Linked DNA regions of Homo sapiens. The gene in region 3 interacts genetically with the main gene of each other region. Each region holds a gene or a part of one and is shown on either strand. Other genes may lie near its edges. The genes, in order: RIT1, TCOF1 and DDX18.

Region 1 (3,500 bases), on a different chromosome or scaffold from region 3:
AGAAATGCCTATTTAAAACTCATCTTACAGAGTAGTACATTGTATCCAAATTCATTAAATGCCCACATTTTCTCAGGAAGCATGCTAAATCCACTGAGATACATAAACTGAGTCTTCAACTGAAGTTTTTTTTTCCACATAGGTGATGATGTAGTTTATTCACAGCTGAAGATTTCACCTACAATTCTAAGCTAAAAAAGGATTCTGAGAAGATGTCTTTCTTAAAAAAATTAGGCTATCTGGGCACAGTGGTGACTGCCTATAATCCCAGCTACTTGGGAGACTGAGACAGGAGTATTGTTTGAGCCCAGGAGTTCAAGACCAGCCTGGGCAACACAGCAACAGCTCATCTTTTTTTTTTTTTCTTGAGACAGGGTCTCACTGTCACCCAGGCTGGAGTGCAGTGGTGCAATTTCGGTTCACTGTAGCCTTGACTTCCCAGGCTCCAGTGATTCTCCCACCTTGGCCTCCCAAGTAGCTGGAACTACAGGCGTGCTACCACCATGTCTGGCTAATTTTTTTGTATTTTTGGTAGACATAGGATTTTGCAATGTTGTCCAGGCTAGTCTCGAACTCCTGGGTTGAAACAATCCTCCTGCCTTGGCCTCCCAAAGTGCTGGTATTACAGGTGTGGGCCACTGCACTCAGCCGAGACCCCATCTCTTAGGGGAAAAAAAAAATTAGGCCTGAAAAGTAACTTTACCATTTATTAAATTGTTATTATCTACCAGACATTATACTAAGTAACTTATATATATTAATTCTTCAATAATCACAATAATCCAATGAAGTAGGCATTATTACCTCCATTTTACAGCTAAAGAAAATTCAACTTGAAAATATTAATGTCTTCTCTAAATTAGTTAATTAGTGACAGAATGAGGATTAAAATCCAAGATTGCTGAACTGAAAAGCATTATTAACCATGTGTTATACTTCCTCCTCAATACTACAAAAAAGGAAAAAAATATATAATTCACTATTTTTTTTTTTTTTGAGACAGGCTCTCACTCTATCACCCAGACTGGAGTGCAGTGGCATGATCTCGGCTCACCACAACTTCTGCCTCCCAGGCTCAAGGGATTCTCCTGCCTCAGCCTCCTGAGTAGCTGGGATTACAGGCACATGCCACTATTGCCCGGCTAATTTTTGTATTTTTAGTATAGACAGGGTTTCACCATGTTGGCCAGGCTGGTCTTGAACGCCTGACCTCAAATGATCCACCTGCCTCAGCCTCCCAAAGTGTTGGGATTACAGGCGTGAGCCACTGCACCCGGTCTAACTGACTATTTTCTAAATAATCCACAGTTTCGTAATTTCTCTTTTCTGAAAGCAAATTTCTTTATGCATATTACTATAGTAACCTTGGAAAATATAGAAAACTAAAAAGAAAAAAAAAGCCACGCAATATTTCATTCACTTAACAACTGCTGCTTACATCTCAATGTATTTCCTTTTAACATTTTTTCTTGAATTCCTGCTTCTGTCTCTTCCTCAAAGATGAAGAGCTCATTAAATCAATGCTTCTCAATTATTCATTAGGATTAGTGAGTTGTGAAATCTACTTAATGGGCCGGGACCAGCATTAAAATAAACAAGCAGAAACCTAAATAAAAATAGAAAATACCAGGCCAGGCACAGTGGTTCATGCCTGTAATCCCAGCACTTTGGGAGGCTGAGGCGGGTGGATCACCTGAGGTCAGGAGTTCAAGACCAGCCTGGCTAATGTGGTGAAACCCCATCTCTACTAAAAATACAAAAATTATCTGGATGTGGTCACAGGCGCCTGTAATCCCAGCTACTTGGGAGGCTGAGGCAGGAGAATCGCTTGAACTGGGAGGTGGAGGTTGCAGTGAGCCAAGATTGTGCCACTGGACTCTAGCCTGGGCAACAGGAGTGAAATTCTCCGTCTCAAAAAAAAAAAAAAAAAAAAAAGAAAAAAAGAAAAAAAAAGAAAGAAAATACCAGAGTGGGTGAGGTACAGTGGCTCTCACGCCTGTAATCTCAGTGCTTTGGGAGGTCCAGGTGGGAGGATCACTTGCGCTCAGGAGTTTGAGACCAGCCTGGGCAATAGAGCGAGACCTCATCTCTACTAAAAATCCAAAAATATTAGCTGGGCTTAGTGGCCTACGCCTGCAGTCCCAGGTATTTGGTAGGGTGAGGCGGGAGGATCACCTGAACCCAGGAGGTCCAGGCTGCAGTGAGCCAAGATCACAACACTGCACTCCAGCATGGGCAACAGAGTGAGACCCTGTCTCAAAAAAAAAGAAAAGAAAAGAAAATATCAGAGTGCACCAGATGTAGTGAGGTAAAGTTTCATAATATTTTAGCTACACATACACATGCGCTTGTGTATATAATTTATATATACATATGCACACATTCATATGCTTTTTTTTTTTTTTTTTGAGGCAAAGTCTCACTCTGTCGCTCAGGGCGGAGTGCAGTGGTGCAATCTCGGCTCACTGCAACCTCTGCCTTCTGGGTTCAAGGAATTCTCCCACCTCAGCTTCCTGAGTAGCTGGGATTACAGGCATGCAGCAGTAACACGCCCAGCTAATTTTTGTATTTTCAGTAGAGATGGGGTTTTACCATGTTGGCCAGGCTGGTCTTGAACTCCTGACCTCAGGTGCCTTGGCCTCCTAAAGTGCTTCGATTACAGGATTGCAGGCTCAGGATTACAGGCGTAAGCCTCCGCACCCGGCCTTGTATGCTTTTATATCTCTACCAGTTACAATGTAAAGTTTTTCTGAGTTTACAGCCAGAGCTTGAAATCAAATGCACTAAATTAGAAACTCAAGAACAGAAACCTCATCTTTTTGATCACCACTGTACCCTGAGGGTAAGCAGTGCTTGGCACATAATAGAAACTCAGAAGACATAAGTATTTGCTGTTGAATCAGATAATATTGCCAGGAGAGTAGTTAACTGGAGGAAAATTGATTAAAACAGATAACTTGGCCGGATGCGGTGGCTCACGCCTGTAATCCCAGCACTTTGGGAGGCCGAGGCGGACGGATCACAAGGTCAGGAGATCGAGACCATCCTGGCTAACACGGTGAAACCCCGTCTCTACTAAAAATACAAAAAATTAGCCAGGCGAGGTGGCGGGTGCCTGTAGTCCCAGCTACGCTGGAGCCTGAGGCAGGAGAATGGCATGAACCCCGGGGGGGCGGAGCCTGCAGTGAGCCGAGATCATGCCACTGCACTCTAGCCTGGGCGACAGTGAGACTCCATCTAAAAAAAAAAAACAAAAAAAAAAATACAGATAACTCTTACAGGAGACGAGTATTTGAGTTTTACTTTAAAGAAAGGGAAAGACGCGGCCGGGCACGGTGGCTCACGCCTGTAATCCCAGCACTTTGGGAGGCCAAGGCAGACAGATCACGAGGTCAGGAGATCGAGACCATCCTGGCTAACACAGTGAAACCCTGTCTCTACTAAAGGTACAAAAAATTAGCCGGGCGTGGTGATGGGCCCCTGTAGTCCCAGCTACTCAG
Region 2 (3,724 bases), on a different chromosome or scaffold from region 3:
TCCCAGAGTGAGATCCTTAACAGGAGTGACAGCAAGCCTAATGTGAAACAGAATGAGGACTCTGGCAGCATCTCAAGGCCCCTGCCTCACTCAGGGATGGCATCTGGTCAGTGTCAGAAAACAACCCCATCCCCCAGCATTCCTCAAACACATGAGGTCAAATGAGGTGAAGAATCAGGACTTCAAGAAGATTCCCTACAGTGTGGACCAAGTATGACTCAGGCCGAGGTGCTCATCAGTAGAGCACGTAAATCCTCCAGAGGGGAGCCATGTTTTCCACAAGAAACAAGACACAAGACTGACTTGACCTAACAAGTCTCAATACACAAAAAAGGATTTAAATCATACAAAATATGTTCTCCAACCACAATGTGACTAAATTAGAAATCAACAAAAAGAAACCTGGGTAATCCCAGATATTTGGAAATTAAACGGCTTACTTCAAAATAGCCCATGGTTCAAAAAATAAAAATAAAACACCCACCTCATGGTACAGGTGGGAGGCTCAGAAGGGAAGACAAATATTTAAGTGAGCTGCATAATGAAACTCTGTAAGGCATTGGGTCTGGAATGTGCCTGCAGCTTGGGAAAGAGTAGAGGCGGCTCTGGAAGGGGCCCCTGCAGAGCTTAAAAACCTCAATGGAGGAATTCTAGAGCCCTGAGGTCCCACAAGTCAACGAGAGGAGGACAAAAAAAAATCAGTAGAAATGTGTGCTCTGGTACAGAGAAAAAAGAAATGACTAATTTCTGAGTGGTTACAGAAAAAAACAGAGCGACAATTAAAAATAATAAACAGTGGGTGGGTGAGTGCAGGGAGTGAGCCATCTTCTCTCAGCTCTTCCAGGCTTGGAGACCTCACTCCTGATCTGTTCCACATTAGCCTGGCCCATCGTCAGGGTGACAGAGACAACTTGCTGTGTGCAGCTCCCTTGCTGGGTGTAGCAGGTGAGATCTCACCTAAATTCTCACCCAAACCTGTGAGGGCTGATTTCCTGTTTATAGGAGAGTAAGGGCTCTGAGGGCTTACAGCACTTGCCAGGCTGTGGAGCTGAAACTTGAACCCAGGCGGTCTGGCTCTAAACAACTGCCAGCCATCCCACCACAATGTGCCGCCTGTGGCAAGGCACCCAAGCCAGGCACTCTCTCATTCCCTGGCCTCGCACAGACTGCTTCCTCTGCCTGGAACACTCTCCCTGCCCATTTCACCTGGCCAACTCTTTCAGCCCATGGCTCAGATGCTGCCACCTCCTGTAAAAGGCCTAGATGCTCTCACCTGTCATGCTGCGCAGCCCAGGCTCACACCCTCTATCTCAACCCCATCGCTCCACACTGCAGGAGCATGTCCATGCTCCACAGAGACAGGACTTCCCTGAGGAACAGCGCCTCAGCAACCCCAGACAAGGGCAGCACCTGGCAGGGTGGGAACTCCAGAGCTTGTGAAAACCACAGGGAATCAATCAGCAGGAGGACCTCAAAAGGCAAACAAGACAGAGACCCTGGAGCTCTGATGGGCAGAGGAGACATGGAGTGAAAGATAGGGAAGGAAGCTGTGTTGAGGCTACCTCTGAGGCTTCTGCACACCTGCAGGCAACACTAGCCCCCAGTCAAGCCCATCCTCAGCCCTGGCTCAGGAACAGGTGTGGGTGGGATGGGCCTGCTCCTTCTAGGCCTCACCTGTGCTGGAGATGCAGCTGCTTCCTCACTGTCTGATTCCTCCTCACTGCTCTCAGAGTCTTCCTGCTTTTCAGCTTTCACCTGGGTGACTGTAGGCCCCGTCTTCCCAGGGAGTACTGGAGCAGTCCCTTGCCCCAAGGACCCCTTGACAGGCACTGAGGCTGCTTTCACCTGGAGGCCTTTCCCCACAGACTTTGCCTGGGATGACAAGGGGAAGAGAGGTGTCTCCAGGAGTCCAAAGGACCACGTAGGGGCGGCCCTGAGGCCCGCCCAGAAAACACAGGCCTCACCTGTCCCACGGTTACTGCAAGACCTGTCTTCTCTTCCTCACTATCTGATTCCTCACTGCTTGAAGAATCCTCTGCTGGTCTCTGGGTGCCCCCAGCCACAGCTGGGGATGAGCCTGCTGGAGAAGTCGCAGTTCCTGCTTTCCGGGGGGCTTGGGTGCCCACTCGCACAGGGGCGACCTTGGCAGATGCAGTGGTATTGGTTTTCTTTGGGCAGGCCTTGGTCTGAGGAATTTTCAGAGCTGGTTTTGCCTGAGGGGACACCAAAGAAAGGCTGGAGAAGGTTCCTGAACTCAGAGTCCCCCATCTGTTCTGCCCCACCAGCCAAAACCCATGCTCTGCCTGAGGGAGCACAGCTCCCCGGGGGTGCTGACTGTGGTGTGGCAGATCAGGCCATGTAGCAGCCTCCTTCCCCAGGCCTCACCTGAGCTGCAGTCATGGCTGCTGGTGCCTCCTCACTGTCCGCACTGTCCGATGACTCCTCGCTGCTCTCCGAGTTGTCCATGGGCTTTTCAGCCTTGACCTGGACGGCTACAGGCCCTGCCTTCTGAGGGGGCCCCTTGGCAGGACTGGAGGTGGGTTTGGCCTGGAGGATGTTCCCCAAGGACTTTTCCTGGAGTGAGATACACAGGATCGGGAGAGGGAGCCCAGGGTAGGTGTGTGCAGACATTAAGAAACTAAGATTGTAGACAGAGTCCCAGTGTGAGGTTGGGAGGCCACAGGCAGCTCCACTCTGAGTGGGGGGGAAAAAGAAAGAGCCTTACAGGAAGGGGCCTCACCTGAGCCGGGGCCACAGCTGTGGGCACCTCTCCATCACTGCTGTCTGATGACTCCTCACTACTGCTCTCTGAGTCCTCCTCCCACTTCCCCACCTGGGCTGAGGGGGTTGCAGGCCCCACCTTCCCGGGTGGCACTGGGCCGGCGCCTTTCCCCAAGGGCCCCATGCCCATGGTAGAGGCAGGTTTCACCTGGGGGCTTTTCCCCAAGGGCTTCACCTGGGAGACACAAAGGACAAGATTAGGGAGGGAGTCCAGAAGGAGAATGTGAGTGAGGGGAGGAGAGCAAACGAAGCCAGCCGCACAGGGCTCTAGGTTCAGAGAGGAAAAGTCAAAACCACAGGAGGTCTTTTGAGGCAGGGCACAGGCCATGCAGGGCGGCTTCCAGCCTCACCTGAGCTGCATTCATGGCTGCCAGTGCCTCTCTGTCACTGTCTGACTCCTCGCTGCTGCTTCTTGAGTCCTCCTCCTGCTTCCCCACCTGGACCTGGGCGGCTGCAGGCCCTGTTTTCCTAGGAGGTGCTGGGGCAGCCCCTTTCCTGGGGGACTCCTTGGCAGGGGCCGAGGCGGCTCTGACCTGGGGGGCCTTCCCTGAAGGCTTCGCCTGGAGTGAGAAACAGGATGAGGGGAGAGCCCAGAGGGTGGACGTGTGGAGACAGGAGCTGGATGTGGCAAAGGTGGCCACACCCATGCAGGTGCTGGGGTTTAGGCATGGGGCTACTCTCCACCCCTCCCCTCTGCCTCACCTGAGCAGGCGCCTCCTCCTCACTGTCCGATTCCTCGCTGCTGCTCTGCGAGTCCTCCTCCCGCTTCCCCGCCTGGGCCTTGGCAACTGCAGGCCCTGTCTTCCCAGGGGGCGCTGGGGCAGCTCCTTTCCTGGGGGACTCCTTGGCAGGGGCTGAGGCAGCTCCGACCTGAGAGGTTTTTCCTGAGGCCTTCGCCTGGAGAAACAAGACAAGGGGAGACAGCCCAGAGGATGGACGTGTG
Region 3 (3,724 bases):
TGTAGTTATATACTGTACAAAACACACTAGAAATCAAGTGCTCCTACAACGAAAAACTCATCTGACTAAATCACTGATTTTGCTGTTTTTTTTTCTAACTTTGTTCATTTTCAATCTTCACAGCAAATGTATTTTTTGTTTCAGGGCCTGGAAGAGGTATTTTTTTCTCAGAAAGAAGCTAACATTAATGTGTGCTGGGCACCGTCTGACAGCTTGGCTCTAACTCCAAGTAAGTTGCCCTTGTCTTCTAAGTACTCTACAGAGTGCAAAGGCTTACCAAATCCAAACCACCTTGAATTAAACAAATCTTAATGAGGAGCATCATCGTTCTTTGTATGAAAGTCTTTGTTATGTTACCAAATGAAGAAATGCAGTACATTACACCTCTATTGATGTAAATGAGGCTCAAACATCTCAATTCCATCCTCTTCCTACCCCCCAGCCATCAAACGTTATAACTGCTTAGTGACACTTTATTCAAATTACAACCCATAGTTTTTGCTCCAAAAAATGCAACACCTGAGAAAGGCCTGTTGCTTTAAAATCAAGAATCTATAAAAGCAATGCCACCCTAATCTTAAGGTGCTTCTTAGGTATTTCCCAAAGCTCTTTGCTCTTTTATACTGCAGCATTTTCAGGAGGAGTCATTAGATACTGTCAAGGTCCAAGAAATAACTAAAAACAAAAAATAACCTGAGACTCTTTTCTGCACCGCCACCAGCTGCCCAGTACACTAGGTCACCTTTTACAGCAGTGAGCACAGCAATCCATGCCACAAAAATCTTCGCAAAACAAGAAGGAAAGGTACAAAAAGAATTATATTAAAATGGTAACATACACTTGTATGAGGGAGGGATATTTAAAATTAAAATATTATCATCACAAGAAACACCAGATATTCCTTGCTCTGCCCTTGGGCAACCAAGAAACTTAAAGCCTGTTTTATATCCCAGAAATAAAAGAGAGACGTGATAGAAGTAACAGTGCTCAGTGCTTGCAACCCAAGTCAATTTATACTCTTGTTAGGTAAGTCCAAATTCTAAAGTCTACAAAAATCCTGTTAAATCAAGGGGAAAAAAAATTCATTTTAGGACAAAGTTATTCAAGATGAAAGGAAGGCATGTGTTCAGTGAGAGAACTGCCTGCTGTCAGATGATTTCTTGCTAATGTGTTTAAAGATTTTGGATTTCTCAACTTTCTTGGTTTTCTGGTAGCCAAATCCACCACCACCTCCTCGCTTTTTCTGCTTGCCTTCATTACTGTTGACGTCTGGAGGCAAACATTAAGGAAATCAAGCAAAAAAGATAATGAACTCCAATCTAACATCTACACAGAGAAAAAAACCGGCATGAACACTACTGTTCCTCCACAACCCCATTCTCAACAATGAAAATGTGGGAACATAAGCCTATGCAATAAATTTCCAGAAAATTAGGAGTGGCCACGTGACTGTGGACTTAAATTAGCAGGTATGATTTTAAACTTCGGTGTGTAATAGTCATATTAATTATTTCTTCCACACGATGAAATTCATGACAGTGAATAAGGATTTATGAGTTTAATCAGGAAGTTGGTAGGAGCACATTAAAAAAACACCTCCTGTGTCAAAACAAATGACTATCATTTCTCTTCGGAATTGATTTAGGAATGCCTAAGTGAAGGAGCTGCTCTTCCTTCCACAGGACTCGACATACATTCATTTCAGCTGACATTTACTCAATGCTGACAATGGGGATGGTGACCCAAAATTTGGTCCTCTAGTTCCCTCAGAAGTTACCCCTATGGCACTGAAGCACAGGCCTCATTTCAGCTGCTCAGTTTCTTCTTCTGAAAGGCACAAATTATAAATCACAACTGAAGCAACTGGAAGTACTCCTGCCTTTTATCTTAAGCAACACCTAAGTTTTATTTTCTTTTGCTGAACTTGCCACTTTCTTGCATAAAATCCTTCAGGGGTTCTAAGATGATTAAAACTCCTTGAAAGGTCCCATCCTCTCTTTAGCTTCAAAACACCCCATTCACCTAAGTACCCTGCACAGTGCAGCCTCAGCAAACACTGAAGTTTTGATTTTTTTAACCTGTGTTTCTGCCTGGAACACACAACTGTCTCTGTCTCTCCTTGACAGTCAAATTTCTTTGTCTTTTGAAGGCTCAAGGCATAAGCTGCCTTGTCCCTGTAACCCCATCCTAATGATTAAGCCCTGCTTACCCCATCCAACCTCTATGTCCTGTGCTAGCACAGAAAAGCAGACATCGACCAGGGTGAACACTGGAGCCTCCAGTCTGAGCCAGAACACATACCAATCCACTGCAAAGCCCCAAATGCCCCTCTGTCAAGCTTTTGTTCCTTAGTCACAGGATAACTTCATTAAAGAAAAGGATACTCAGATCAACGAAGGGAGGCACCTTGAAACCAAATGACAGAGCAACCTGAGGCAAATTTAGGTTATTAACATTAAAGATCTGTTTCAGAGAATGGGAATCATAGGCTCGTATGTATGACTTATATGCTTCCTGGGCTGACTTATGAAGAAAGTAATTCTTTTCAATCAATTTCTCAAGCTGAAATAGAAAGAAACACTGGTTTTAATAAACAAAAACAAACAAAAACCTCCAAAACACCAGATTTTAAATATCCTAGAGCAAAGCCACTCCATGGAAAACATTTAAAGAGGGCACAGAGTGGTGATAACTAGAATAGCAAGAAACCTTATACACTACACAGCCTGATCCTCACTTTAGGACAGGGTAGACTTCAAAGGACAGTGATTGCCCAGTGAATCACTACAAACAGAGTGCTGGGACAAGGTTCCTGTTTACTCACAAACGTTTAAAAAGCACATACCTGAGACTGAATGTCAGAAATTTTAGACCAGGAAAAGTCAAATTCACTTAATGGAACCTAGAAATCAAAAGTATTAAGATTAGTAAACCAGGATGATCAGCATTCCGATACTGGGTACTGAAGACAGGGAAGGATGAACCGGCCTATGAAATTCCCTCAGGACAGAAAGGAAAATCTGCTTTTTCTAGTCTCCCAATGTTGATGGGAAAGTTACATCTTTGCTCTGCTGAGTTAGGCAATCTGCACTTCTTTCTTTCTGAAAGGCAAGGAACTGGATAGGGACACAGTCAGTAAAGCACTTTTCTGTAAGAATCTCTATAATCCTGACTATTTGCAACCATGAATCAGCTTGAAGCTTCTAGTCAGAAGGGCCATCAGCCCCTTTTCTCCATGTCAGAAGAGGGGCCCTAATACCCCCACAGTCCTGTATTGAGGCTTGTGACACTGGAGGCCATGATGACCACAAACTCCTACAGGATGGATCTGCCATCAGTTATCACTCATTAGATAACTAGAAAAGCAACAGGCCTGTGCCAGGTGCTAGAGAGAAAATAGGTACCTAACTCATGGACTCTGCCCTCAGAGAGCTTGCCGTCTTGAGGGGGAGAAAGATAAGTAATGAAATGTCAACCTGTAGATTCTGGATATTAGCCCTTTGTCAGATAGGTAGATTGCAAAAATTTTCTCCCATTCTGTAGGTTGCCTGTTCACTCTGATGGTAGTTTCTTTTGCTGTGCAGAAGCTCTTTAATTAGATCCCATTTGTCAATTTTGGCTAGGACTAATATCCAGAATCTACTAAGAACTTAAACAAATTTACAAGAAAAAATCAAACAACCCAATCAAAAAGTGGGCGAAAGATATGAACACACACTTCTCA

The links.
Region 1: changes in DDX18 (region 3) and RIT1 together harm fitness more than expected from each alone (negative genetic interaction), as found in Homo sapiens cells (one large-scale study listed by BioGRID).
Region 2: changes in DDX18 (region 3) and TCOF1 together harm fitness more than expected from each alone (negative genetic interaction), as found in Homo sapiens cells (one large-scale study listed by BioGRID).

Annotation. Positions count from the first base shown.
Region 1 is NC_000001.11:155,904,850-155,908,349, forward strand, and holds part of RIT1 (GTP-binding protein Rit1), read right to left. Parts: intron 1-3,500.
Region 2 is NC_000005.10:150,374,571-150,378,294, reverse strand, and holds part of TCOF1 (treacle protein), read right to left. Parts: intron 3,679-3,724; coding exon 3,484-3,678; intron 3,342-3,483; coding exon 3,132-3,341; intron 2,957-3,131; coding exon 2,741-2,956; intron 2,575-2,740; coding exon 2,386-2,574; intron 2,214-2,385; coding exon 1,965-2,213; intron 1,873-1,964; coding exon 1,675-1,872; intron 1-1,674.
Region 3 is NC_000002.12:117,828,127-117,831,850, reverse strand, and holds part of DDX18 (ATP-dependent RNA helicase DDX18), read right to left. Parts: intron 2,903-3,724; coding exon 2,846-2,902; intron 2,563-2,845; coding exon 2,385-2,562; intron 1,270-2,384; coding exon 1,127-1,269; 3' UTR 1-1,126. UniProt on the Homo sapiens protein: ATP-dependent RNA helicase that plays a role in the regulation of R-loop homeostasis in both endogenous R-loop-prone regions and at sites of DNA damage.